Regions from separate parts of the Homo sapiens genome. Here region 2 is linked to region 1. The links come from fine-mapping of genetic effects on gene expression. A gene starts in region 1. The other region holds a variant in brackets. All regions are shown on one strand. Distances are from middle to middle. Region 1 holds the start of C1orf216 (chromosome 1 open reading frame 216). Region 2 holds the start of EVA1B (eva-1 homolog B).

What was found.
Region 2: its variant is fine-mapped to the expression of C1orf216 in whole blood (INTERVAL, PIP 0.95).

Annotation. Positions count from the first base shown.
Region 1 is chr1:35,710,727-35,725,595 of GRCh38, forward strand. C1orf216 (chromosome 1 open reading frame 216) reads right to left here and starts at 8,158. Exons shown (of 2, transcript NM_152374.2): 1 at 7,981-8,158; 2 at 3,151-5,600. The coding sequence starts at 5,595. The coding sequence ends at 4,906. It also overlaps a transcript of CLSPN not described here. RefSeq lists an enhancer at 4,782-5,076 and silencers at 7,890-8,319, 9,982-10,276.
Region 2 is chr1:36,311,186-36,325,046 of GRCh38, forward strand. It overlaps SH3D21 (SH3 domain containing 21), which reads left to right. Exons shown (of 16, transcript NM_001162530.2): 11 at 7,886-7,979; 12 at 8,075-8,127; 13 at 8,257-8,351; 14 at 8,490-9,613; 15 at 9,730-9,793; 16 at 9,871-10,162. The coding sequence ends at 9,942. EVA1B (eva-1 homolog B) reads right to left here and starts at 12,460. Exons shown (of 3, transcript NM_001304762.2): 1 at 12,274-12,460; 2 at 11,786-11,882; 3 at 10,845-11,540. The coding sequence starts at 11,852. The coding sequence ends at 11,110. RefSeq lists enhancers at 9,958-10,842, 11,729-12,613 and silencers at 11,658-11,847, 11,938-11,987, 12,048-12,407, 12,498-12,727. The variant A/C (reference allele first, on the strand shown) is at 10,243.

The sequences.
Region 1 (14,869 bases):
CTCTCAAAGACAAGAGCAGGCTCCTCAGGGCCTCATGCAGGGGAGGCACACAATCTTCTTAATCCATACAGAGCATCTTCACGTCCATTTCCTCATTCAGCCCTTATAGTTGCCACAGGTGAGGAAACTGAGTATAGAGAGTGTAGCTCAGATCTGCCTATGGGAGGTACTGTGGTCACCTTAGCACTTCCCATGATTAGGCCTCGTGGCCAGTGGACCTGATGGAGAACCACAATTCTTGGCTGAGTTGGTTCAGCCACTGGAGTCCTGCCTCCGTTTCCCTGCCCCTAACTCTGCCGTCCTGGGCTGTGGCTCTATTCTTGCCAATCTCCTTCCCAAACCCATCATCCCCCGGGGAGTCCCTGACCTTCAGTGACTGGCAGGGGTCCTGTAAACATACAATTCACCACACATTCCCTTGGTCTCACCTTCTTCTTTTTCTCAGCTCAAAGAGTTCTTTTCTGGAAAGGAATATTAGGCAGCTTTATTTTTTAGAAGTCCCCTTCCCCTTTAAAGATGACATTCAAATTTTAGATTCAGCCAGGTGCGATGGCTCACACCTGTAATCCCAGCAGGTGGGGAGGCTGAGGCGGATCACTTGAGGCCAGGAATTAGAGACCAGCCTGGCCAACATGGTAAAACCCCATCTTTACCAAACATACAAAAAAATTAGCCAGGCGTGGTGGTGCATACCTGTAATCCCAGCTACTCGGGAGGCTGAGGCATGAGAATTGCTCAAACCCAGGAGGCGGAGGTTGCAGTGAGCCAAGATCACACCACTACACTCCAGCCTGGGCGACAGAGCCAGACCCTGTCTCAAAAAAAAAAAAAATTTTTTTAGATTCCAATTTCATAAGAAAAAATGTTTTTCTATGAAAAAGCTGTATGTACCAAAAAAGTATGATTTATAATAATCATAATTCATTAATGTAACTTACTATGTGTCAGGTACAATTCTAAGTCTTCTATATATTACATATTTAATCCTTGCAGCAACCCTGCGAAGTAGTTATTACTATTATTCCCATTTTAAGATGAGGAAACTAAAGCACAGAAAAGTTAATTGACTTGCCCAAGGTCACAAAAACATAAAACAATGGGGACAAGGTCCAAATCCAGGGTGTCTGGCTTCAGGGTCTCTGTCCTTCACCAGGGGCTGTGTTCAAAAGAGCCCTCACACATTTAGAAAAGGGGCTCCTGGCCGGGCATGGTGGCTCATGTCTGTAATCCCAGCACTTTGGGAGGCTGAGGTGGGCCGATTGCCCGAGCTCAGGAGTTTGAGACCAGCCTGGGCAACATGGCAAAAACCCATCTCTACTAAAAATACAAAAAATTAGCCAAGCGTGGTGGCATGTGCCTGTAGTCCCAGCTGCTTGGGAGGCTGAGGTAGGAGAATGGCTTGAACCCAGGAGGTGGAGGTTGCAGTGAGCCAAGATCACACCACTGCACTCCAGCCTGGGCAACAGAGTGAGACTGTCTCCAAAAAAAAAGGCTCCTTATAAAAATTCACCCTCTTATGCTCTGAAGGTTTGACAGACATCTTATTGTCAGAAATCTCCATTCAAATTTAGCCTTAGCCCTTTGCCAAAACATCTCTTAGTAAGTGGAATTTGTAAAAATTGGTTCAATACTATTTCTGTTTAAGTGTCAAGTGTGGAGATGACAAGAATTATTAACTGTTTCAGTGAGAAGTATACTTTGTGAAGTTTAAAATAAATATGTTGCCAGGCACAGTGGCTCCCAGCACTTTGGGAGGCCGAGGCGGGCAGATCACGAGGTCAGGATATTGAGACCACAGTGAAACCCTGTCTCTACTAAAAATACAAAAAATTAGCTGGGCGCGGTGGCGGGCGCCTGTAGTCCCACCTACTCGTGAGGCTTAGGCAGGAGAATGGTGTGAACCCGGAAGGCGGAGCTTGCAGTGAGCCGAGATCGCGCCACTGCACTCCAGCTTGGGCAACACAGTGAGACTCCGTCTCAAAAAAATAATAATAATAAAATAAAATAAAATAAAATAAAAATGTTGGCCAGGCGCAGTGGCTCACACCTGTAATCCCAGCACTTTGGGAGGCTCAGGTGGGAGGATGGCTTGAAGCCAGGAGTTTGAGACCAGCCTGGGCAATATAGCAAGAAGCCATCACTACAAAAAACTTAAGAATTAGCTGGGTGTGGTGGTGTGTGCCTGTAGTCCCAGCTACTCAGAGGCTAAGGTGGGAGGATCACTTGAGCCCAGAAGTTCAAGGGTACAGTGAGCTATGATTGCACCACTATGCTCTAGCTTGGGCGTATCTTGGAGACGCTGTCTCCAAAAATAAAGAATCAAATCAAATAAAAATAAAATACAGTATTTCAGATTTGTGAATTTTGGTATCCCTGGGGATCCTGGAACCAATCCCCTCAGATAACAAAGGATGACTGTATATTATAACTACATGTGTGTCAAAACCATCTAAGGACCCGAAATCATAGTCATAGTCAGAGCGCCCTTCAGGGAAGTGATGACACCAGGGTACTTGGTGTTTTATTTTTTGTTTTATTTGGTTTTTTGAGATGGAGTTTCCCTCTTGTTGCCCGGACTGGAATGCAGTGGCACGATCTCTGCCCACTGCAACCTCTGCCTCCCAGGTTCAAGCGACTCTCCTGCCTCAGCCTACTGAGTAGCTGGGATTACAGGCACCCGTCCCCACGTCTGGCTAATTTTTGTATTTTTAGTAGAGACAGGCACCATGTTGGCCAGGCTGGTCTTGAACTCCTGACCTCAGGTGATCCACCCATCTCAGCCTCCCAAAGTGCTAGGATTACAGGTGTGAGCCACCGTGCCCTGCCCAGGGTACAGTTGAGTATGTACGAGTGTGTATGGTATGTGTCCCTCGCAATTCATTTAGGCCCAAAGGTGACACAGGACAAGGACAATCCCATATGGGGCTCTCAGGGTAGAAGTCAAGTCTCCCCTGTCACACTGGATGGCCCCTGAGAGACTTCTCCACCCCATTGGATCGCCAGGCACAGCAGTCTAAATTCTTCAGTGTCTTTCCCCAAAACCACCTCCCTAGCTCCTAGTCCAGGACCCTACTCAAAAGGGGAGCTCAGATGGTATGAAAAAGAGGCCATCAGACAACAGGTAGAAGAAAAACACATACTCAAGAAATGTAATTTTCTGCCCCAGTTTATTCATCTTGGGTTGGTCCAGAAGCCGGGTTTATACACTCAATATGCAAGAGCTACAGACAAAAAGTCTTCAGGGCCCACCCCTCACCCCCACTCTCTGGATCTTTCACCCATCCACCTGTCAGGGATGAAACTCTTTAGAGATAGGAAGAGCCCCCCACTTTGCCGATAGGGAGACTGAGGGCCAGAGGCTGCATCAGTGACTTCCATGCCACTGTTCACCCACCAGTGTCCCCTCTTCATACCACTGCTCACCCACCAGGATCTTGCATTCTCTTGGCTCCCAAGAACAAAGCAGAGAGCTAAGCTACCTTAGTCGTTGGTTCTCTCCAAGACTCACCCACTCTGTAACTCGCGGAGCCTGCCAATCCCTGTTTGAAGGGCCATGCAGTGAAAGAAGGGGTTAAAATTCAGCATCCTAAGCATCTCCAGAGGCTTAGGCTGACACTGTCCCCTTCACATCCCAGAAAGCCAACCTCTGGCTCCTCCTGACAGTCCGACTTCAGAGAAATGAACCAAACCAATTCAACATCCAATGCTGCTAAAGCCAGAGAGGCACAGCAAGGTAGAGGCAGAGACAGGGAAGCGATATTTTCCTCATCGGCCTTGGAACATCTTGTCTGTTACTTGCAAGCTTATAAACATACATTGCTTTTCATCAGAAGCTTAAATGAACACGGTTTGCAACAGCTCCTTTTCCAATGGAGAGATGGTTTGTTTGGGAACTGGTATTTTAGAATTCCCATTCTCCTATTCTTCACAGGGTTCCACTGTTATCATCTTTCCTGTCCCCATCTCCCATGTGCCCAAAGGCAGAGTTCAAGAGGGACAGTCCCCTATGTCCTCTGTCCCCATCCCCACCATCATCTTCATCACTACTCCTGGTTCCCTTTCCTGATACCAGTTCTCCACACACTGCCAAAATTGCAGCCAAAATTCCATGGCAGGCCAGAGCAGCCACTAAACCTCCTACAAGTAAAGCCAACATCAGGGACAATAGCCTCAGCTGAGCAAGTCTGGGTTAAGTGAGGGAAAGGGAAAGGAGAGGTGGCCTGGGAAATCCCAGGAGAATGGGTCAGCCACAACCTTCAGATAAATGACAGCATGCTAGCCCTCTGTCTCCAGGGAACAGTGGGACCCAGTGGAGAAGAAAGGCTGGGGTAGGCCATGAGGAACACAAGGTGTGGGTGGACACCCACAGTGCAGCTGGATATGTATTTGCACACACCTGCTCATGAGTCTGCCTACAAACACACATGCTCCTAACATACACCTCCCATGCCTGTGGCCAAACATGTGCACCCCTGCACACACAAGGGCTTCCTCACATACACCTAATACAAGCCTGCACACTCAAACTCACTCATAGACACACACATCTTCTGCCTATACATCCTCACTCATGCGCATATACACACACTGCTGGGTACCTGTCTACACATGCACATACCGAGTTCCTCATTCTTACATACTACACACACACACATATGTTCACTCTTACATGCTCACATATAGGTCTGCAGATAAATTAGCTGTGTGTACACATGTGCACACAGCACACTTAAGCTCATTTATACATGCTTATTCACACATGCCTACACACACCAGCCTACATGTTAGCACATACACACTCATGCCTACCTGCAATCATGCCAGCAAATTATGTACTTACTAGTGCGCCTCACACATGCCTGCAAATATATACATATACCCTTGCACACTTGTGGAGGCACACCCTTAGGCCTGGTCCTGGGGCCTGGATGGTGCTGCCCTCTGCTGGAGACAGCGAATAAGCTCCTTCCGGTTGTCTAGGATGGTGTCGAAGCTCTCCTGCAGTCGGGCCTGCTGGTCAATCAACTGATGCTGCAGGCCCCGGATCCACTGGAGCAGTGCCAGGCGACGGTACATCACCAAGTGCACGTGGTGCTTTTCCTTCTCCTGCTCTTTGTAGCGCTCCTGGACTTGTAAGTGCTGCACAGCCTGGGCCACTGAGGGCAGAAGGGGATCGGGAGGGCCAGGGCCTCGCGGGGTCCCACAGGCAGGCTCAGGACTGCTGCTACGGCTGTCAATGCTCAGGGAACTGCTGGCATAGCCGTTGTCCTCCAGAGGGGAGCAGACTGTGCCAGCACCACCCATCTTCTCAGGCTCAGCCCCGGGAATCTCTGCCCCCTCTGGGGGGCTGCGCACCCCTTCCTCAGGGGATCCAGGGGCCTGGAAGGCTTGGTTGTCAGAGGGTGACTCAGAGGAGCTCCTCCTCAGGATAGGTTCCACTCTGCCTGGCATCCCATGCCAATTCTCGTTAGCATCCTTGGCACTTGCCATGAAGTTGGAGTTGCTGTCTGGTTGGAGCTCGGGCTGACATAATCCAGGAGGTGGGTCCCCCAGGAATTGGCCCCCCTCAGCTAGCCCTGGCTGGATGGCGAACATCTAGCCTGTAAAGGGAAAGCAGGAGACCGAGTCACAGTAGGACAGGGTGGGGTGCCTGAAGTCAGGGCAACTTAGCTGCAGGGACAAGGCTGCAAGCAAGAGCCTGGCCACTCCCTGTCAAGCCCTTTCTCTTGACTCTGGTAACACTTCCCTTCGTGGTTTTCGTCCTCCCTGTCTACCTGTTCATTCTCAGTCTCCTGCAAAGGGTTTTTCCTCCGTCCTCAGAGCCAGGCTGTCTTCTGATTTTGTGCATTTCTCTCCAGAGGACCTCATTCTCTGCTGTAGCTTCAAAGACCATCATATGCTGGTGACTCTCAGATCTGTCTTCAGCCCAGATCCAACTGCTATCCAACCCTGCAACCAACCATAGTCTCCTCAAATTCTACATAACCAGTCCAGGCATGGTGGCTCATACCTGTAATCCCAGCACTTTGGGAGGCCGAGGCAGGCAGATCACCTGAGGTCAGGAGTTCGAGACTAGACTGGCCAACATGGTGAAACCCCATCTCTACTAAAAATACAAAAATTAGCCAGGCATGGTGACAGGCACCTGTAATCCCAGCTATTTGGGAGGCTGAGGCAGGGGAATCACTTGAACCCAGGAGGCAGAGGTTTCAGTGAGCCGAGATTGCGCCACTGCACTCCAGCCTGGGTGACAGAGTGACATCATCCCCCTCCACCACCGCCCCCCGCCAAAATTCTACATAACCAAACAAGCTCTCCTTCAGTATCCTCAGCAAGATGGCTCTGTACTCCATCCAGAAAGCTGAGAGCATCCTGGGGTCCTCACTATCCTTCCTTCTCCCATCTCATTAATAACCACATTCTGACCATTCTTCCTCTTCCAGGCCATTTCTGACCTGGATTATTGCCTCGGCCTTTTCACTGATCTCTCTGCCTCCAGTTAAAAATGTAAATTTCACTTGTCACCACTCCTAATGCCCTCCCTGAATTCCTGCTAAACCTCTACCTGGCCTACAACACCCTGTTTGATCTGGCCCCTGCTCACCCCTCCATACCTGCCTCTTGCCACTCTGCCCCTCCCATCATAGCAAACTGCCCAGAGATCTCAAAACACACCATTGTTTTTCTTACAGTATTCCTTTGGCCTACAATATCCTTCCTCTCCCCTCCCCTCAAAGCTCCTCCCTTCTCCACCCAGCAAATTCCTTTTTGTACTTCAAAATTAGCTGTAATATCCCCATGTTTCCATGTCCCCATGTCTCTGAAGCCGTCTTGATACTGCCCCAATCAATATTACATAAACAAGCACGGTTAGTTATGCCTTCCTCTGGGTCCCCACTGCGCTGGGTATACACTGTCTTATCCAACTTTGCATCCGTCCCTGGCATACATGGTCGACGATCAGTGAATGTCTATTCAACTGGCATTTTTGGTTTGTGGTAATGATCTTGTAATAGCAGTTTGTAATCTGGCTTGGACCTCCTGTATATATCCTCCATCATATTCCCCAGAGTCAGCCAGCATAGAGCCCTGAACCAGGCTGTCTGTGCATACAGGTACTTGCTAAGTGAGTGAATGGGAGAAGAGACTGCAGTGAATTTCCATGCTCAGGAATCCACTCTTGACTCCCCAGGGCTGGAAGAGCTGGGTTCTGGAAGAGCTGGGTTTGGTTCCCTTTCCTACCCCAGCCAGGGAGCCCCGCCTTCCCCAGTGACAAGCTTTTCTTCTGAGCCTGCCCCCTTCCCTCCCAATGCCTCTGGAACACAGCCACTATCTTGCGGTCCCCGTCCCTAGCTTGCTCCATTCTGAGGCCCTGGAGGGAGGGCATACCACACCACTCTTCTCTCCTCCATAACCTGCTTCTAACCAAAATTAGGATTTGAACTGACAAAGGGATTCTACTGACCAAACAGCACTGGGATTAGAACAATTGAAGAGCATGAAGAGGAAGGGTATTGTAAGTGGAGCCGGCACTGGAAGGCGCTCCATAGGTGGCATGGACCCTCCCCACCCCCAGCAATGGGCAGAGAAGTCCTGGGGAGAAGGGTGTAGGAACAGTTCGTTTCTAATCGCCCTCTAAGCAAGGCTTGTGGGAAGGTGCCTAGAGATCTCCCCTCGCCCCAATTTTTTATTTTTCCTATACTTGGATGGGGCCGTGAAGGAAGCTGGGATGGGGTGGGGGTGGCGCTAGGGATCACAGGGTTCTCAGAGATAGTAAAATGAGAACCCCGACACGCCAGGACTAGGTCTCCGCCCAAACAGGAGGCAGCCTCCTTTTCTGGCCTTGCGGGAGTGGGAGACCACCCCAGGAGACAGAGACCATCCTTCCCTAGTCTCCTCGAAGGAGGCCACTGTGACTCCCCGCTTCCCGCGGCTGAGCCCCAAGCCCCACCCCGCCTCGGGCCCCAGACTCGGACTCACGGCGTAGAGGCGCCCGCTCCGGCGCGTCTGGCTCTGGCTCCGCCCGGCCCTGGTGGTGTCTAGTCCCTGGGCTGGGGGTTCCTCGGCCTGGGCGTCTCCGCGGTCCAGGCGTGGGTGCGGGGCTCCCGGGCAGCGCGCCCAGCCCCAGTCCCGGACTGCGGAGTCAGGCGGCGTCTGCGCAGCAGGGCGGAGCGACCGGTCCCACGTGGGCCGGTTCGGTTTTCCGCGGAGCCCCGCGCCAGGCCCCTGCGCCGGAACCGCTTCGCCCCCGCGCGGGGCCGCGTTGACCCAGGCCTTCCAGGTCCGGTGCTCTCTCCTATTGGCATTCGCTGGGCCCTTCCCATCAGTTAGCCTCGCTGCAGACACCGTGCCATTTTCAAGTGAAATCTGATTAGTCACCACCTTCCGGCGTTAAACTCCTCAATGGCTTCCCCACCGCCGGGACAACCCCTAAGGCGGTAGCCGCGGGGCTCTGTGCGTCCTGCCCTTCGTCTGCCTCTCCGGCTTCGTCCTCTACCCTCCCTCTCCGCAGTTACCCTCCCACACGCCCCTTTCCGCCACGCGGCTTTGGCACGCACTGTTCCCTCGGTCTAGCATTCTCTTCCCCCTCTCGACTTACTCCTATTTCAGATCTCTTCTCGGAGAGATCTCTGACTCCCTAGATCACGTTCGTTCCCCCCTTTATGTCAGAGCACATTCCTTTTCTTCATAGCATTTATCACAATTTGGAATTATATATTCCTTTTTGTGCTTACTTGACTAAAGTCACTGAGGCCGGGTGCGGTGGCTCACGCCTGTAACCCCAGCACTTTGGGAGGCCGAGGCGGGCAGATAACCTGAGGTCAGGAGTTTGAGACCAGCCTGGCCAACATGGTGAAACCCCATCTCTACTAAAAATACAAAAATTAGCCGGGCTTGGTGGCGGGCGCCTGTAATCCCAGCTACTTGGGAGGCTGAGGCAGGAGAATCGCTTGAACCTGGGAGGTGGAGGTTGCAGTGAGCCAAGACTGCACCACTGCACTCCAGTCTGGGCAACAGAGTGGGACTCCGTCTCAAAAAAAAAAAAAAAAAAAAAAAAAAAAAGAGAGAGAGAGAAAGAAGATCCAAGCCTGGGACAGGGCTCAGGGCTGATGTCCTGTACCCGGGACGGGGGCTCTCCGCAGGACACAGAGCCCACCCATGATGCCTGTGAAGTGGGTACCAGTGCTTTTGCCCAGGTGAGGAGGAACAGCGTGATAAAAAAGGGTCTTGGGTTCCAAACTCCAGTGGATTCTTCTCAGAGCTCCACTCTACTGAAGCTTGACCCCCCTCACTCTTTTGCACCCTGGGGAAATGTGAAGTTGGGGGCCCTGTTTGGAATAAAAGAGAACAGAGTTCAGTAATTGCTGACCCTAATATATGAGGTGCCCTCTTCCAGTTTCAATTTGATTCCAAGTCACCATTCTGCAACCTAGAGACTAATTGGCAAATTAAATCACACCAAGAAATCCTATATGCAAAAACAGGGAAAATGGAAAAGAAATTTTTATGATTATGATGACTATTTTAAAAGGGAAAAGGAAATAAGAAGGAGAAGGCAGAAGTAATTCAAACTTTGCACACTCCTCCAGCTAAGAAAATACAGGTGGAGACGTCAGCCCCATTTCTACATCAGATCCTGTGGCCTAAGTCTTCTCCCTTCCCTTATCCACTTCAGGTTCCCCTGGCCTTCAGCCTGGGGTGACCCAAATCCTCACTTTTTTTTTTTTTTTTTTTTTTTTTGAGATGGAGTCTCGCTCTGTCGCCTAGGCTGGAGTGCAGTGGCGCAATCTCGGCTCACCGCAACCTCCACCTCCCGGGTTCAAGCGATTCTCCTGCCTCAGCCTCCTGAGTAGCTGGGATTACAGGTGCATGCATCACGTCAGCTAATTTTTGTATTTTTAGTAGAGATGGGGTTTCACCATGTTGGTCAGGTTGGTCTTGATCTCCTGACCTTGTGATCCACCCACCTCGGCCTCCCAAAGTGCTGGGATTACAGGCGTGAGCCACCATGCCTGGCCCAAATCCTCACTCCTAAAGGCTCTCAGCTTTGGTGATCTAGGGTTATGCAGTTCTGCCCAGACCACAGAGCCATAAAGTCATCAATTGTTTGTTCTGCCCAGAATAGCCCTTCTCCGCCTCTCTTTGGACTCTGTCTCTCCCAGCTTAACCATGTGGGTCAAATGAAAGCCTGAAGAATCCAGGGATAGGAGCTCCACTCCAGGTGAGCCAGTCAGAGTCCTTCTCTGGGATCTTCTGAAACGAAATTAAAGGAAGACGAGGCAGGGAAGAAACAGAGATGAGAGATAGTTCTGATAATGTTGCAGACCCTGTTTCCTGCATCTAAACTTATAGTTTTGTATGCCTTATTTTGCCAAGCCTAACTTGAGTGGAATTTCTTTCACCGACAATTGAAAGAATGCTGATTACTACAATAGCACAAGGTGGTGACCCCAGGGTCTCTGGGTTCCATTCACGCACCTCTCAACACTTATTAGGTAACAGTAACTCCCTTTCTCCTTGGTAGCCATGATCAGTCCAGTCTACACTGAGACCACCCCCTTCTCCTATTCCTCTAGTGCTACCAGGAGCCGAAATCCCAGGGAATCATCTTTGTGTTTCTTGGTTAGAAGAAACATTCCTCCCATGATGCTATCACCATGTTTTGTTTTGTTTTTTTCCCAAGACAGAGTTTCACTGTCACCCAGGCTGGAGTGCAGTGGCGCGATCTCAGCTCACTGCAACCTCCGCCTCCCAGGTTCAAGTCATTCTCCTGCCTCAGCCTCCCGAGTAGCTGGGGTTACAGGCGCGTGCCACCACACCCGGCTAATTTTTGTATTTTTAGTAGAGACAGGGTTTCACCATGTTGGTCAGGCTGATTTCAAATTCCTGACCTCAAATGATCTGCCCGCCTTGACCTCCCAAAGTGCTGGGATTACAGGTGTGAGCCACTGTGCCTGGCCGATGCTATCACCTTCTGACCTGCAATACCCAGAATCTCAGAGACAGGAAGAAAACTCTTAGTCCTTAGGTAAATCATATAAGGTGCCACAACCACCGCTACCTCTTCTTGTTATGCATTCTGGCCACAAAGGACAAAGCATTATATACATTGATTTAAAGCCTATATTGGGCCTGGTGTGGTGGCTCACACCTGTAATCCCAGCACTTTGGGAGGCCGAGGCAGGCGGATCACTTGAGGCTGGGAATTCGAGACAAGCTTGGCCAACATGATGAAACCCCGTTTCTACTAAAAATACAAAAATTAGACAGGCATGGTGGTGCGCGTCTGTAATCCCAGCTATTCAGGAGGCTGAAGCAGGAGAATCGCTTGAACCCAAGAGGCAGAGATTGCAGTGAGCCAAGATCGTGCCACTGCACTCCAGCCTGGGCGATAGAGTAAGACCCTGTCTCAAAAAAAAAAAATTAAAATAAAATAAATAAAGCCTATATCGTGCTCTGCAGGGCAGCACCCCAGCCTGGAATAGCTGAGTCATCAATTCCATTGTTCTAAAAAGCTAGTTATTCCTTTTTTTTTTTTTTTTTTTGAGATGGAGTCTCTCTCTGTCACCCAGGCTAGAGTGCAGTGGCATAGTCTTGGCTCACTACAACCTCCACGTCCTGGGTTCAAGCAATTCTCCTGCCTCAACCTCCTGAGTAGCTGGGACTACAGGTGCCCGCCACCTGGTGAATGTTTGTATTTTTAGTAGAGGCAGGATTTCACCATGTTGACCAGGCTGGTCTCAAACTCCTGACATCAGGTGATCTGCCTGCCTTGGCCTCCCAAAGTGCTAGGATTTCAGGCGTGAGCCACCACACCTGGCCTAAAGCTAGTTATTCCTAAATAATACAATACCTGCTAAGTCAAGTGAATTCATTTAAAGGAAATCAGATTGTAGTCTCTCTCTTTCTTTTTTTTTTCCCTGAGACGGAGTCTTACTCTGTTGCCCAGGCTGGAGTACAGTGGTGCAATCTCCATTCATTGCAACGTCCGCCTCCCAGGATCAAGCGATTCTCATGCCTCAGCCTCCTGAGTAGCTGAGACTACAGGCGTGTGCCACTGCACCGGCTAATTTTTGTATTTCTAATAGAGACAGGGTTTCACTATGTTGCCCAGGCTGGTCTCAAATTCCTGGCCTCAAGTGATCTGCCCACCTCGGCCTCCCAAAGTGTTGGGATTACAGGCGTGAACCACCACACCCAGCCTGTAGCCAGTTTTGTTAATCAAGGGCAGTGTTGTATGGAATATTCTAGCACTGTATAATTAATACAGTCAGTGCTCACACAGCAGTCCTGGTCACTCCATAATTTTCAGAGCTCAAAACCTGAAGAAAAAAAAGCTCCAAATGCAGGGATGTCCATGTCCACAGGAAGACAAAAAAGCAGCTATAGAGATGCCTGTTATTCATTTGCCAGAGGCTTTTCCAGTGAGGACACCAGAGAATAATTCACCCCCAAGTGAAAGGGTATCTGTGGCTGGGTTCACCTACCCACATATATGCCAGGAACTTAAGTGGCAAGGACACAGAAACCTCCAGAGATGGCCAGTATCAGCCTGAACAGGGCTTTGCAAAAGGCCATGCCATCAAGACCCAATGATGGACAGCGGGTAAGCCTCTTGGCAAACAGATGTCAGAGCCAAGAGAGGCTAGCAGTGAGTAGCCAGATCCAGGTCCCAGGGCCTGGGGTGTCAGGCAAGGAGACCAGAGAAGATGAGAGGAATTTCTCATCCAGGAAATAGGACAGGCCTAAGGGTTATTCATAGGTGGATAATTTCTCAATATCAGTATTCTCAGGAAGAAAGGGGTGGGTAAGATCAAGGTGTTTCAGCTTCAAAGACCTTGTCCCTTCCCACCCATTCATTTACATGTATCATACAGTTACAGAGTGCTTACTTTGTGCCAGGTACTGTGTTGGGAATTCAGAGCAGAATCAGAACTGGTCGTGGTCTTGGGGAGCTCCTTGTTTAGAAAGGGAAACAGAAGTCATGGTGTGTTGGCTCATGCCTGTAATTCCAGCACTTTGGGAGGCCGAAGCGGACAGATCACTGGAGGCTAGGAGTTTGAGACCAGCCTGATCAACATGGTGAAACCCCGTCTCTACTAAAAATACAAAAATTAGCCGGGCATGGTGGCACACGCCTGTAATCCCAGCTACTTGGGAGGCTGAGGCACGAGAACTGCTTGAACTTGGGAGGCAGAGGTTGCAGTGAGCCAAGATCACACCACGGCACTCTAGCCTGGGTGACAGAGCCAGACCCTGTCTCAAAGAAAAGGAATAGACAGAAGAGTGGGCTATAACAATGTAATGGGCCCTGCAACAGAGCCAGGAGGCAAAAGTAGTAAGCCCAGAAAAGGGTAAGGAAAGGCTTCACAGAGGTGATTTTTTTTATTTTAAGAGATGGGAGTCTTGCTATGTTACCCAGGCTGGTCTCGAACTCCCAACCTTAAGTGATCCTCCCACCTTGGCCTCCCAACATTCTGGGATTACAGGCATGAGCCACTAAACCCAGCTAGCACAGAGGTGATATTTGAGCCAGGCCTTGAGGGATGAATAAGAGCTCACCAAGAGAAAGCAAGAGAAGGCATAGGAGACTGCATTTTCAGAGTGAGTTCAGGAAACACCCCGTAGGCCAGTGTGGCTGGAGCTCGGTGGGAAATGGAGGTAAGGTGAGGCTAGAAGATAAAGTTGGCCCAGTTGTGAAAGTTCTTGACACCATCCCAAGGAGCTTGGGCTCCATCCTGGGGACAGCAGGGAAGTAACTGAGGAAGCCCTCAGAGTTTCCATATCAGAACAAAGCACGATCCTGGATTACAAACTACGTTGCTAACCTGCTTTCTTCTCTCTTCCTGAGGTCACATCATCTGTCAACTTCCCCACATGGCTTTGGGAACTTAGGCAAATCAAATCATTTTAACCTTTTTGGGCTAAATAAAATAATATGCCTTAAAAATTGTTCAATAACATAGTGGTGAACATTGTCACTTGGGCTCCCAAGACCAGGCACAACCCCAGAGGACCTTTGACATGCCAAAGAGCCATTAAGGCAGATTGGAACGAACATTATTCCCCAGAATTGGTTCATCTTGGGAAAGGAAGGCCTAGGAAGCTGATGACCTACTTGTTTTGTTCATCCATTTCTCTACTGCTTCTTAAAGGTAAAGTGCCTCTTTAGTCTATCAAGAAATTACTATGTGTTTACCTTAGGTAAAATATGCCCATTCCCCTATCTTCCATTTTGGCTGTTTTCCCAGCTGTAAAATGACAAGGCGGTACATTCAATTAGAAGTTTTAAAGCATTTTTAGAGCCTTGAAGTAATTTCTTTTTCCTCAACAAAATCTTTCCAATATATCCAGTTTGAGATCTGTCTTCCCCTAAACCCTCCACCTAAGGGCTCCGAGGGAACTTCAGAGAAGCTTTTAAAAGTTCGGCAGGGCACAGCTGCAAATCCACTGCACCAGATGAACCTAGGAAATGAATCCTCCCCCTGTCCCCAACACTGTTCCCCTTCTCACCCACCCCTTCCAAGGGAAAAGGGAGAAACAGGTCTTTTCGGAGCTGCTGGAAGAATGAAAGGTAATATAAATTCTTTCTCTCCAGTGCACTCAAGCGGTCACCAGGACATCAGAAAAGCCAAATCCAAGGTCCCAAGGCTCTTGATCATCCAGTGCCCACAACAGAGGGAGTAAGCTAGACGGAGAAGCTGAAGTGAAGGAGGAAAGAGAGAAGGGGGTGCCTGTTCCACCCCCTTCCTAGCAGCTGCCTCTGTGGGCTCCATAATCCCCATGCCCTCTCCCCCACCCCACCCTCCGGCCGCCCACCTCTCCTCCACCCACCCCATTCATCAGTAGGAGGGCACTGTATCAGCAC
Region 2 (13,861 bases), 600 kb after region 1:
AGCGTGAGCCACCGTGCCTGGCTGAGATTTGCTGTTTTTTGTTGTTATTGTTTGTTTGTTTGTTTGATTGTTTTTAGACGGAGTCTGCACTGTCGCCCAGGCTGGAATGCAGTGGCGCAATCTGGGCTCACTGCAAGCTCTGCCTCCCGGGTTCACGCCATTCTCCTGCCTCAGCCTCCCGAGTAGCTGGGACTACAGGCGCCTGCCATCACGCCCAGCTAATTTTTTGTATTTTTAGTAGAGATGGGGTTTCACCGTGTTAGCCAGGATGGTCTCAATCTCCTGACCTCACGATCCGCCCGCCTTGGCCTCCCAAAGTGCTGGGATTACAGGCATGAGCCATCGTGCCCGGCCTAAAACCTTTAAAATGTTGCTTTTTATATTAGTGCTTTTATTCATGTAGTAGTGATTTTAATGAGTGATACAATTATACCTTTTTCCCTATGGACAATGAGTTGTTCCAGCATCATTTATTATTTTCTACATGTGAGTTTTATACAATTTGGGGGGTTTCTTTTTTTTTTGAGAAAGGGTCATTGGGTCTTTGTTGCCCTGGTTAGAGTACAGTGGCAATTGTAGCTCATTGCAGCTTCAACCTCCTGGGCTTAAGCGATTCTTTCACCTCAGCCTCTCTTGTAGCTGGTACTACAGGTACAAGCCACCATGTGCAGCTAATCTTTTAATCTTTTTGTAGAGATGGGGTCTCACTGTGTTGCCCAGGCTGGTCTCGAACTCCTGGGCTCAAGCAATTCTCCTGTCTTGGCCTCCCAAAGTGCTGGGATTAGAGGTGTCAGCCACGGTGCCTGGCTTAGTTTTATACATAAAACTATAATTTTCTTTTTTTTTAAATTTTTTTTGAGACAGAGTCTTGCTTTGTCACTCAGGCTGGAGTGCAGTGGTGAGATCTCGGCTCACTGCAAGCTCCGCCTCCCGGGTTCATGCCATTCTGCTGCCTCAGCCTCCCGAGTTGCTGGGACTACAGACGCCCGCTACCACGCCCGGCTAATTTTTTGTATTTTTAGTAGAGACGGGTTTCACCATGTTAGCCAGGATGGTCTTGATCTCCTGACCTCATGATCCGTCCGCCTTGGCCTCCCAAAGTGCTGGGATTACAGGCGTGAGCCACCGCACACGGCCATAAGACCATAATTTTCATAAGATTTATTCCCAGATATTCTTAGGTATCTCAGAGTTTTTATTGTGTCTTTTAAAAAATAGACATTCTTCTGTTTATTGCAGGAATACAGAAATGCATTGATTTTTGTATATTGTTTTTATAGCCAGCCATGGTGCTAAACTCTGATTATTTCCAGCAATTCATTTGTAGGTTCTTACAAGTTTCCTGTGAAGACAGACATATCATTTGTGAATAATAATTTTTGTGTCATTCTCTTCACTCCTGCCTTTTAATTTCATTTTGTTAATTTATTGTAGTTATTAGGATCTCTCATACAATATTAAATAGAAGTAGTGATGGTGAACATCATTGTCATGTTCCTGATTTTGAATCTAGTTTTCCCTTTTCTTCTTTTTACTGTCTTTTGAGACAGAGTCGCATTCTGTCACCTAGGTTGGAGTGCAGTGGCGCGATCTCAGCTCACTGCAACCTCCATCTCCCGGGTTCAAGCAATTCTCCTGCTGCAGCCTCCCAAGTAGCTGGGACTACAGGTGTGCACCACCACATCCAGCTAAATTTTTTTGTATTTTTAGTAGAGACAGGGTTTCACCATGTTGGCCAGGCTGGTCTCGAACTCCTGACTTTGTGGTCTGCCCGGCTTGGCCTCCCAAAGTGCTGGGATTACAGATGTGAGCCACCACACCTGGCCTATCTGGTGGATCTTATATAAGATGGGAATGGGCCAGGCTTGGTGGCTTACGCCTGTAATCCCAGCACTTTGGGAGGCTGAGGCGGGTGGATCATGGGGTCAAGAGACGGAGACCATCTTGGCTAACACGGTGAAACCCCGTCTCTACTAAAAATACAAAAAATTAGCCAGGCATGGTGGCACATGCCTGTAGTCCCAGCTACTCGGGAAGCTGAGACAGGAGAATTGCTTGTTCACCCAGGAGGCAGAGGTTGCAGTGAGCCGAGATCGCGTCACTGCACTCCAGCCTGGGTGACAGAGTGAGACTCTGTCTCACAATAAATAAATAAATAAATAAATAAATAAGATGGGAATCATCTTTCCTTGCAAGCTGGTAAAACTTGTCTGTAAATTCATCTTGCCATATTTTTTTTCATTATGGGATTATTTTAAACAACTTCTTCAATTTCTTTAATAGTTAAAGAAAAGTCAGGGTAAAATTCTTGAATCAATTGTGGAGTTACGTGTTTTTAACTATTTTATGTAAGTTTTCTAATTATTTGCATAAAGTTGTTCATAGTATACTCTTTTATTTTGGAGAGACAGGGTCTTGCTGTGTTGCCTAGGCTGGAGTGTGGTGGCACAATGGGAGCTCACAGCAGCCTCAAACCTCAAGTGATCCTCCCACTTCAGCCTCCCGAGTAGCTAGGACTATAGGTGTGCACCACCACACCTGGCTAGTTTTTAAGTTTATTGTAAAGAAAAGGTCTTGCTATGTTGCCCAGGCTGATATTGAACTCCTGTGCTCAAGTGATCCTCCTGCCTTGGCCTCCCAAAATACTGGGATTACAGTTGTGAGGCACTTCACTCAGCTGTTTTTGTTATCTTTTTAATGACAACTGTCCTAGTGGGTATGAAGTGGTATCTCATTGTGGCTTTGATTTGCATTTCTCTGATGGCTAATGATGCTGAACATATTTTCTTTTTTTTTTTTTTTTTTTTGAGACGGAGTCTCGCTCTGTCACCCAGGCTGGAGTGCAGTGGTGCGATCTTGGCTCACTGCAAGCTCTGCCTCCCGGGTTCACGCCATTCTCCTGCCTCAGCCTCTCCGAGTAGCTGGGACTACAGGCGCCCGCCACCACACCCAGCTAATTTTTTGTATTTTTAGTAGAGACGGGGTTTCACTGTGTTAGCCAGGATGGTCTCGATCTCCTGACCTCGTGATTCACCCGCTTTGGCCTCCCAAAGTGCTGGGATTACAAGCGTGAGCCACCGCGCCCGGCCCGATGCTGAGCATATTTTCATGTGCTTATTTCTTTTGGAGAAATGTCTGTTTGGATCCTTTGCCCATTTAAAAAATTGGATTATTTGTCTTTTTACTATTGAGGAAGAGTTCTCTATATATTCTAGATAAAAGTCCCTAATCATATATATGCGTATATATATATATGGTTTGCAATATTTTCTCCCATTCTTTTTTTTTTTTTTTTAGTCTTGCTCTGTCACCCAGGCTGGAGTGCAGTGGCATGATCTCAGCTCACTGTAACCTCTGCCTCCTGGGTTCAAGCGATTTTCCTGCCTCAGCCTCCCAAGTAGCTAGGATGACAGGCGTGCGCCACCACACCCGGCTAATTTTTTGTATTTTTAGTAGAGATGGGGTTTTGCCATGTTTCCCAGGTGGTCTTGAACTCCTGACCTTGTGATCCACCCACCTCGGCCTCCCAAAGTTTTTCTCTCATTCTTTAGGTTGTCTTTTCACTTTCTTCGATGGTGTCCCTTGATGTACAAAAGTTTTAAATTTTGATGAAGTCCCATTTATCTATTTTTTTGGTTGGCTGTGCTTTTGAACCAATGTCAAATCCCAAGATTACACTCCAAATTGAGCTGCCTTCAACTTAGCCAGTTAAGCTGCTGATCCTCACAGTTTGCCCTACCCTGCAGAACATCCATGTGGACCAAGCTGAGGGGCCTGGGATGAAAACGGCCCTAGGCAAGAACATTATCAAGCATACAAAATGCTCTGCAAATTATCCCAGCACTTTGGGAGGCTGAGGCGGGCAGATTGCTTGAGGTCAGGAGTTTGAGAACAGCCTGACCAGCATGGCGAAACCCTGTCTCTACCAAAAAATACAAAAATTAGCAGGGCGTGGTGGCGGGCACCTGTCATCCCAACTATCTGGGAGGCTGAGGCACAAGAATCGCTTGAACCTGTGAGGTGGAGGTTGTAGTGAGCCAAGATCACGCCACTGCACTCCAGCCTAGGTGACAGAGCGAGACTCTGTCTCAAAAAAAAAAATCCTTCGCAAATTATCTCATGCCTTTGGATAATTTCCAGAGCATTGAAATGGTTGTTGGATTTTTCTTTTTCTTTTGCGGGGGGAAGGAGTCTCGCTCTGTCTCCCAGGCTGGAGTGTAATGGCATGATCTCAGCTCACTGCAACCCCTGCCTCCTGGGTTCAAGCGATTCTCCCGCCTTAGCCTTCTGAGTAGCTGGGATTACAGGCACCCAACATCATGCCCGGCTAATTTTTTTATTTTTGTAGAGAGGGGGTTTCACCATGTTGGCCAGGCTGGTCTCGAACTCCTGACCTCAGGTGATCCGCCCACCTCGGCCTCCCAAAGTGCTGGGATTACAGGCGTGAACCACTGCACCCGGCCTGTTGGATCATTTTTGTCCAGCTTCATAGTTGCCTTGTGAAGAGAGGATTTGTCCACCACCTCATTCAGCCAGAGCCAAATCCTGCTTCTGTCATTCCTCCCTCCTAACATTGCTGTCACGCTGTTCATTCCTTGTCTCACTGCACCTCTAGTTTACAAATTCTCTAGCCTTTTGGCTCTGTTTACTCTGCTCTGTAACCCTGTACCAGTAACATAAGCAATATACATGTAAATAAGTGGATTTATGTTGCATTTCTTTTTCAAGAATGCTATTTTTCATCTCTAGTAATTCCATTTTCTGTGTGATAATTTTCCAAACCTGCATGGTTATTCCTGATTGTCCTTTGTTGCATGCACATCCTGAACTTCTTCAAATGTTTTATACGTATCTATGCAGTGTTCTCTACCTGACAGTTCCACTATCTGTTGTGTGTTGTGTCTGCTGACTCCATTCTTGGTGACCTGCCCTCTAGCGTGTTTTATGACCTTTATTTATGAGCTGATAGCTGGATTTTAATCTGTGGGACTCTTGCAGGCCTTAGTAGAAGAAGACTTCTTCCAGCGAGAATTTGCTTTTATTTTTTGTTTTGTTTTGTTTTGTTTTGAGATGAAGTCTCGCTCTGTCGCCTAGGCTGGAGTGCAATGATGCGATCTCAGCTCACTGCAACCTCCTCCTTCCGGGTTCAAGCAATTCTCGTGCTTCAGCCTCCCCAGTAGCTGGGATTACAGGCACGCGCCACCACGCCTGGCTAATTTTTGTAGTTTTAGTAGAGATGAGGTTTCACCATGTTGGCCAGGCTGGTCTCGAACTCCTGACCTCAGGTGATCCACTTGCCTCGGTCTCCCAAAGTGTTGGGATTACAGGCGTGAGCCACCGCGCCTGGCCGAGAATTTGCTTTTACTTCTCCCAGTAGCCAGAGAACACCACCCACCAGAAGCTGCTTCGGTCCTCCTGAAGAAAGGTAGCACTGCTGTGTGGTACTGAGCTTGGGGCCTGTGGTGAGGTGAGGGAGCAGAGCCCAAGGCCCTGGCTTCACATCACAGGGCCCAGGCTCAGTAGCCACAGAGCAGAGCTGCCCTCCCTCCCTCCGCCTTTCTGGCTTCAGTTCTCTCTCTTTTTTTTTTTTTTTTTGGAGACTGAGTTTTGCTCTTGTTACCCAGGCTGGAGTGCAATGGCGTGATTTGGCTCACTGCAATCTCCGCCTCCCAGGTTCAAGTGATTCTCCTGCCTCAGCCCCCCACGTAGCTGGGACTGAAAGCACTGGGATTACAGGCGTGAGCCACTGGGAGTGCTGGGATTACAGGTGTGAGCCACTGCACCCAGTCCAGTCCTCTCTTTTGTAGACCTCCTTTACCTCTTTTAAGTCCAATGGTGCCTCAAAATTGTGTCCTCAGCAGGATATAATTGCTTCCTAGTGGGAGCACCCTACAGAGCACCTAATCAGCCATACTGTAAGAATGTAAGAAGTCAAAGTTAACATTTACTGAGCTTTGACCATCTGGCTGCCAAACAGTCTTCTAAGCACCTCGCATGTATTAAGTCACTCAGACCTCACAACCACCCTACAAGGTGTGTGTTAGTTGTCCATGTTTTATGAATGAGGACATTGAGGCATAGATCACTTAGCAAGTTCTCATACAACTAGCAAGGAGTGGAGCTGAAATTCAGAGCCTGGTGTCTGGCTGTGGGATCCATGCCCCCAACCACTGTCAGATTTGTGGATTTGTATACGTATCTGCGTGTGATTATATGTAGGAGTTAACATCAGCACTTGTGCACATGCCAGAGTGGCTGTTTTTCTATGGATCTGAATGTCACTGTGTGTAACTGCCTTCAAGTGATGCTGATGTCACCTTAGTGTGCCCTTCTCTGGCCACCCCATTTAAAATGGTTCCTTCCTCTGCCTAGTGTTTTTTTGTTTTGTTTTTTTGAGACGGAGTTTAACTCTTGTCGCCCAGGCTGGAGTCCAGTGGCGCGATCTTGGCTCACTGTAACCTCTGCCCTCCCAGGTTCAAGCGATTTTCCTGCCTCAGCCTCCGGAGTAGCTGGGATTACAGGCGCACGCCACCATGCCTGGCTAATTTTTGTATTTTTAGTAGAGACGGGGTTTCACCATGTTGACCAGGCTGGTCCTGAACTCCTGACCTCAAGTGATCTGCCTACCTTGGACTCTCAAAGTGCCGGGATTACAGGTGTGGGCCACCGCGCCTAGCCCCTTCTGCCTAGTCTTGTCAGTCACGCTTAATAACTCTCTAACACACTATGTATTTTACTCCTTGTATTTATATCTGCTTCCCCAATAGAACACAAGTTCAGTCTGGCTGCTGTGGGAAGAACACACTCTAGGTGGGATGGGTACAGCCAAATCCCAGGTTGGAGGCTGTTGGAATGTCCAGGTGAAGGTGGTGGTGACTTGATCTAGAGCACTTAGTGGTGGAGGTGGTGACAAGTGATTGACTTCAGGAAATATTTGGACAGTAGTGTGGACAGGATTTGCTGATGGTTTGGATGTGTCTCATAAGGAAATAAAAGGAGTCATTTGTCATCCAAACAAGTGGGTAAATGAGCCAGATGGGGACTGTGGGGAAAGGGGTAGGTTCAAGGGGCATGGGTTTGGGAAGCAAGAGATTGGTTTGGGATATGTTAAGAGTGTGATGCCCATCAGCTCTCCAAGTGTAAATATTGAGAGGGAAGTCAGATATGAGTCTGGAGTCAGAGAGGAAGGAGCTAGAGATGAAAATTTGGGAGTCATTGACTTATTGATGAAAATTAAACCCATAAGACTGGGTGAGATCTCTTAGAGAGTAAATGAGAGAGAATATAAAGAATTCTGAGAGTGGGCTGGGCGCGATGGCTCACACCTGTAATGCCAGCACTTTGGGAGGCCTGAGGCAGGCTGGGTCACTTGAGGTCAGGAGTTCGAGACCAGCCTGGCCAACATGGTGAAACCCCGTCTCTACTAAAAATACAAAAATTGGCCGGGCGCAGTGGCTCACACCTGTAATCCCAGCACTTTGGGAGGCCAAGGCAGGTGGATCACGAGATCAGGAGATGAGACCATCATGGCTAACACGGTGAAACCCCATCTCTACTAAAAATACAAAAAGAAATTAGCCGGGTGTGGTGGAGGGCACCTGTAGTCTCAGCTATTCGGGAGGCTGAGGCAGAAGAATGGCGTGAACCAGGGAGGCAGAGCTTGCAGTGAGCCGAGATCGCACCACTGGGCGACAGAAGCAAGACTCCATCTCAAATAATAATAATAATAATAATAATAATAATAATAATAATAATACAAAAATTAGCCGGGTGCAGTGGCGCATAGTCAAACAAGATTAACCTCCTGCCCATAGTCCCCTGCACACAGCACAAGACAGGGCTAGCGACTGTCAGATGGATGAGTGCTCCACTCCTCTCTTCCCAGCTCCTATTAAGGAACCAAAAAAGTTGATGCCCAAAACATCCCTCCCCACAGTCAAGAAGCTAGCAACAGCCACCACTGGGCCCAGCAAAGCCAAGTAAGGAGCAGGATGGGGTTGGGGGAAGGAGGAGGGTAGGAGGCAACGCCCCTCCCTGTGCCCCACCCTGAGGGCCTGATGAAGATATGTTCCAGGACATCTCGGACACCCAGCAGGGACAGTCAGAAGCTCACCTCCCGAGACTCAGGCAAGGGCTGCCTTCCTCCAGTGCGGGGAGGACTGGAGGACAGGGATGGGGTGGCTGTGCGGAGGGACAGAGGTGGGAAGAGACTGAGGGTCAGAGTAGGCTTGGGTCCCTGAGGTTCTGCTCTCTTAGGCCCCAATGGTGGCTTCCAAAGTGGGGGTTCGTATCACCCTGGCCGAAAGCGATCCAAAACCCAGACTCCCCAGCAACGCTCTGTGTCCAGTCAGGTGAGGGGCGGGAGACATGGGAGAGTGGGGATGCTGGGCAGAGGCTGGTTCCCAGCTGTGGTGTGCACGGGTGAAGTCTCCCAGGCCAAGGGGAACCAGACTCAACCTCAGCTGAGACTTCACCTCCCATCACGGCAGGAGGAAGAGCACAGCAGCCCGGTAAAGGCCCCCTCTGTGAAGAGAACCCCCATGCCGGACAAGACTGCCACCCCAGAGAGGCCCCCAGCTCCAGAGAACGCCCCCAGCTCCAAGAAGATCCCGGCTCCTGACAAAGTCCCCTCCCCAGAGAAGACCCTCACTCTAGGGGACAAGGCCTCTATCCCAGGGAACTCCACCTCGGGGAAGATCCCAGCTCCTGACAAAGTCCCCACCCCAGAGAAGATGGTGACTCCGGAGGACAAGGCTTCTATCCCAGAGAACTCCATCATCCCAGAGGAGACCCTGACTGTGGACAAACCCTCCACTCCAGAGAGGGTCTTTTCAGTGGAAGAGTCCCCTGCCCTAGAAGCCCCACCTATGGATAAAGTCCCTAATCCAAAGATGGCCCCTCTGGGGGATGAGGCCCCCACTCTAGAAAAGGTCTTGACCCCAGAGCTTTCTGAAGAAGAGGTGTCCACCAGAGATGACATTCAATTCCATCACTTCTCTTCGGAGGAAGCCCTGCAGAAGGTCAAGTACTTTGTAGCCAAAGAGGATCCATCATCCCAGGAGGAGGCCCACACGCCAGAGGCACCCCCACCCCAGCCTCCTTCCTCAGAGAGGTGCCTGGGAGAGATGAAATGTACCCTAGTTAGAGGGGACAGCTCCCCACGCCAGGCTGAGTTGAAGTCTGGGCCAGCATCCAGGCCTGCCCTTGAGAAGCCCCACCCCCACGAAGAGGCTACAACCCTTCCAGAGGAGGCACCTTCCAATGACGAGAGGACCCCTGAAGAGGAGGCGCCCCCCAACGAGCAGAGGCCTCTGAGAGAGGAGGTGCTCCCCAAAGAGGGAGTGGCTTCCAAAGAGGAGGTGACCCTGAAAGAGGAATTGCCCCCTAAAGAGGAAGTGGCTCCAAAAGAGGAGGTGCCCCCCATAGAAAGAGCCTTTGCCCAAAAAACACGTCCTATCAAGCCGCCTCCAGACTCCCAAGAGACGCTCGCGCTCCCCTCGCTGGTCCCGCAAAACTACACGGAAAACAAGAATGAAGGAGTTGATGTAACGTCGCTGAGGGGCGAGGTGGAGTCTCTAAGGAGGGCGCTGGAGCTGATGGAGGTGCAGCTGGAGTGAGTGGGCAGTGGCGGGGGTTGTGGAAGGTAGGGTTCCCCCTAGCCCTCACCTGCGCAGCCCCTCACCTCCAGCCCTCACCTGCCCAGCCCCTCACCTCCGCCTCGGCCCGCAGGAGGAAGCTGACCGACATCTGGGAGGAGCTGAAGAGCGAGAAGGAGCAGCGCCGGCGGCTGGAGGTGAGGCGCGGGTCCCGGCGGGAGGGGGCTGACGGCGAGTGGCCCCCTGACAAAGTCTCCACCTCACTCCCGACCAGGTCCAGGTGATGCAGGGGACCCAGAAGTCCCAGACCCCGCGCGTCATCCACACGCAGACGCAGACCTACTGAGGGTGGGCCTGGGAAGGGACCGCGGCCTGACCTGGCTGGGGCCACCCACGTCCTTGCACACGACTTTGGGAAACGCGAGAAAGTAAACTCTGCCTAGCACGGCGCCACGCCGGTCTGGTCGCTGGGGGCGGGGCCTGCGCGGGGGCAGGGCCTGGGCCTCCGCATTCCTGACGGTCCCTCCCAGGCACATCTGGCCAACATGTGGCTCCCATTACCGTTCCCAAGGCCTGCGCGCGGCTATTTTTATCCACCGGATGGTGAGGGGCGGGGGAGGGTGTCTCCTTCGGACTCCAGCCGCGC[A/C]CTGGAGAAATGGCGGGCAGGAGGGGCCCAGGCGGGGTCGGGCTCTTGACGCCCGGCCTAGATTCCGGAATCCAGCTGTGCGCCGGGGAGGAGCCGGGCGGGCCTTCTCGCCAGCTCGGACCCCTCCCAGCTGGCCTCCCTGTCCGCTCAGAGGGACTCCTGCCCTCTCGCTTGAACGCACCTCGGCGCAGACGTGAAGTCCACCGTCCAGCCCAAGCACGCATGCTTACACCGGGGCTAGCAGCACCTTAGCCTCGAGGTCAGGGTCCTGAGGCCTGGTGTGTGTGTCATTGCAGTGTATGAACCCAGGGCACTGTGGGGACAGGGCGACGTGTGTCCAGGCGTTTGCCGGTAAGGAATGCGTTTTGAATAAGGAATGCGCGCGCGCTTGCTCTGTGTGTGAGGCTGGGTGCAGGCCTGTGGGCTTCTGCTTTTCTGCTGGCTGTGAAGTGAATGCGGGCAGGTGTGCTGTATCGTCGGGTTGGTGGGTGGGGGTGGTGCAGCTAGGGTAAGGGAGTCAAGCTGGGCCTCAGTCCTGGGGCCCCTGCGTGGCAGGAGCCTGGGGGTCGCTGGGGGCAGGAGTAACAGAGGGAGAGACTGAGTCACTGAGAATGCAGCTTTCTTTCATTTGGTCACTTCACCTCTTCATCGACCCCAGAGAGGGAGTGGGGACCCTGCATGCTGCCCCCTCCCCGCCCCCGGGGTCTTCTGGCAGGACTGGGGAAGGGAGCCTCTCAGGGGGTGGCGGTCCACGCCCAGTAGCACCTGGGAGCTGTGGGGGCCGAGGCAGTCCGAAGGTGTGGGGTAGCTCTGAGCTCATGTGCAGGTCCGGTACCCCGAGCGCCTTGCAGCGGGAGCCGGGGCCCATCAGTAATAGTGCATGCGGCCCAGGGTGCCCGTGGCCGTGGGGCTGGGCCCCAGCGTGCCTGTGCCCAGCAGGTCCGGCTGCCCGGTGCGCCAGATCTCCCGCAGGATCCGTTCGCGCTCCTCCAGCCGCTGCGCCCGCTCCAGCTCCTCCGCCGACGTGAAGACGTTGACGTTGAGGGGCCCGTCCGGCTCTGCGGACAGCTCGGGGCCCGGCAGCGTGTCGTCGGGGCCCAGCCGAGTCACCGTGTCCTCCTCGTCCTCGTCGTCGTCCTCGGGCTCCAGGGTGCTGCTGCGGGGGTCCCGGCGCTGAGCCGGGCCCCGGGGCCGCGGGCGGGGCGCCCACGAGATGCTGATGACGAGCAGGCAGAGGGTGAGCAGCAGGCCGAAGCAGACGCCCAGCACGAAGTAGAGGCCGAAGCTCTCGGGGTTGGCTGCGGGGCACAGGGCGGGGGTCACGGAGAGGCCCGGACGGGTGGGGGTTGTCCCACTTCCGAAAGACCCCAGGTTCTAGGTGTGGGGGCGAGGCCTGTAACCCCTACTCGAAGGGCATTAGGGAACCGCCAGCGGGCAAGAGGGCGGGGAGCGGGGCGGAGGGGACGGACAAGGCGCTGGGGAGGGAAGGGGATGGTGGTCAGGGAAGGGTTCAGGCCCCCAGTCTTCCGGCGCCCGCCCTCACCGCGGATGTGCGCGTAGGCAGCCAGGCTGTTGCTGAGCAACTCCATGTCCCTTCGCGGGGCATCCATGCTGCTCTGGGGGGCAGCTCCCCTACCAGCCTGCGAGGTCAGCAAAGTCAGATCCTTCTCCCAGCCTGGAGCCCACCCCGACCCCTTCCGCGGGCAGCTCCTCTCCCGGGAGCCGCGGGCCCAGGTTCCACCCTGGAGAGAGCGCTTCCCTAACTTCGTGGCGGCCCGGGGCCCTGTCGGGGGGAACCCCTCTCCCGGGCGCGGACGCCCCTCCAGTCCTGGGAGCAGCGCCGGGGACCGCGGGAGGCCCCGCCCCCTGGTGAGGTCCCCAGCTGAGGCCCGGTTCCGCCGTCCCGGGGCGGGATGGAGGATAGGGACGCTGAGCCTCCACGCCCCAGGCGGGCTCCGGGAAGGGAAGCTGCCTCTCTCCTCGCCCGGCCGCCCCGCGGGGACCCACCGGCCCGGGGCCAGGCCCACTCACCGTCAGCGCCCCGCTTCCCGGCTGCCCGGCCCCAGCGCGTCCCGCGGCCGCATACACTGGGTCCGGCCGCCCCCGCCCGCTCGGGTCCCGCCGCCCCTCCGGCCCCGCTGGGCTCCCAGGCCGCGGCAGCACGGGCGGGACACGGACCGAGGGACCAGCCGGCGGAAAGTTTCCTCCGAGGAAAGAGGAGGGACGGGGCGGGGCGGGGCGGGCGGGGAGGCGGGGAGGAAAAGGGCTGGGAGAGGAAGGGGAGAGGAGCGGGCAGCCGGGAGGAGGGAGAGCCCGGCCCGCGGGCCGTCCGTCCCCCACAGGAAACCGCCGGGGAGGCCGCGGCAGGGACCCGCCCCCAGGCCACTAACAGCAACAACAGAGAGGCTGGAGCTCTGCCTGCGTGCGGGCCAAGGGCTAAACCTTGGACAGGTTCTTTCACTTACTCCGCCTGACAACCCTGCGACGTGATACCATTATCCCCACTTCGCAGATCAAATAAACGGAGTCTTGGAGAGATTGAATTGACTTTACCAAAACCGTCAGGATTTGAATCTGCTGCTCTCTGATCCTAAAGCCTGAGCTAGAAACCACCGCTCCCCCTCCTAGGAGGCCCCTTCCAGGCAAAGCTGCTTCTCTTCCCCAGACCCATGCTGGACTGGAAGGGAGGGGACTGTCCACCCCTCCTTCCAGGGCCCAGGCTTGAATGTGTCCCCTGGCCGAGCTCTGGTCTAGTCACGCAGGGTTAATGATTGTTGGACTCCAGCTTTGAGCCAGGGCCCGGCCAGCAGTCTCGCAGACCCCAGCGTGGGGCCTCTGTGCCTGCGAGCTCCTGCGCTCTTGTGCACCAAGCAGCTTGTGGCGGCTTGTGGCAGATCCCACCCCATCCCGTCCCCCACCCCAAGGCTAAACCTGCCTGTGCTCACACACGCATTTCCCACCTGGGCTTGTGCATGCAATGTGGTGTGTGATCAGTGTGTGTGGCGGGGGGCTTCCTTCTGCCCTGTCTCCACGGGGCCCCCCCATCATGGACCTCCCCTCCCTTGCTGGAGCTAGAATGAGGGGGAGGCCGCCTTGGCGGGAGCCTTAGAGAGGAGGAGGAAAGGGGGAGAGGAAATTGCAGACATAGCTGAAGGCGCTGCCTGAGGCCTGTGGGCCAGCGACCCTCTCCCTGTCCGGGCTGCAGACCCCTACTCCCCCAGTCCCGAGACTGGGTTCAAGTAGAGGGCAGATCTAGATGGGGGAGGACTAGGACTGACTCCTATGGGGATGGAAAAGGGACTCCTGGGTGTCTTTGTGACTGTTTAGTGTGTTCTGTGAATGTGCGGGCAGGTATTTTTGCCCACATCTGTATATTTGTCTATTAATGTGATGTATTTGAGTATTGTTGTGGGGGCGGGTATGTCTGTATATAAATCTGTGCAGCCACTAGTCAACAAATACTGTGTATGCCTAGCACTTCCTAGTCTAGTCCACAGCATCTGTGGGTTTAACCAACTTTGCATCAAAAATATTCAAAACCAAAATTGCATCTGTGCTGAACATGTACAGACTTTTTTTCTTATCATTATTTCCTAAACAATAGATATATTTAATTTTT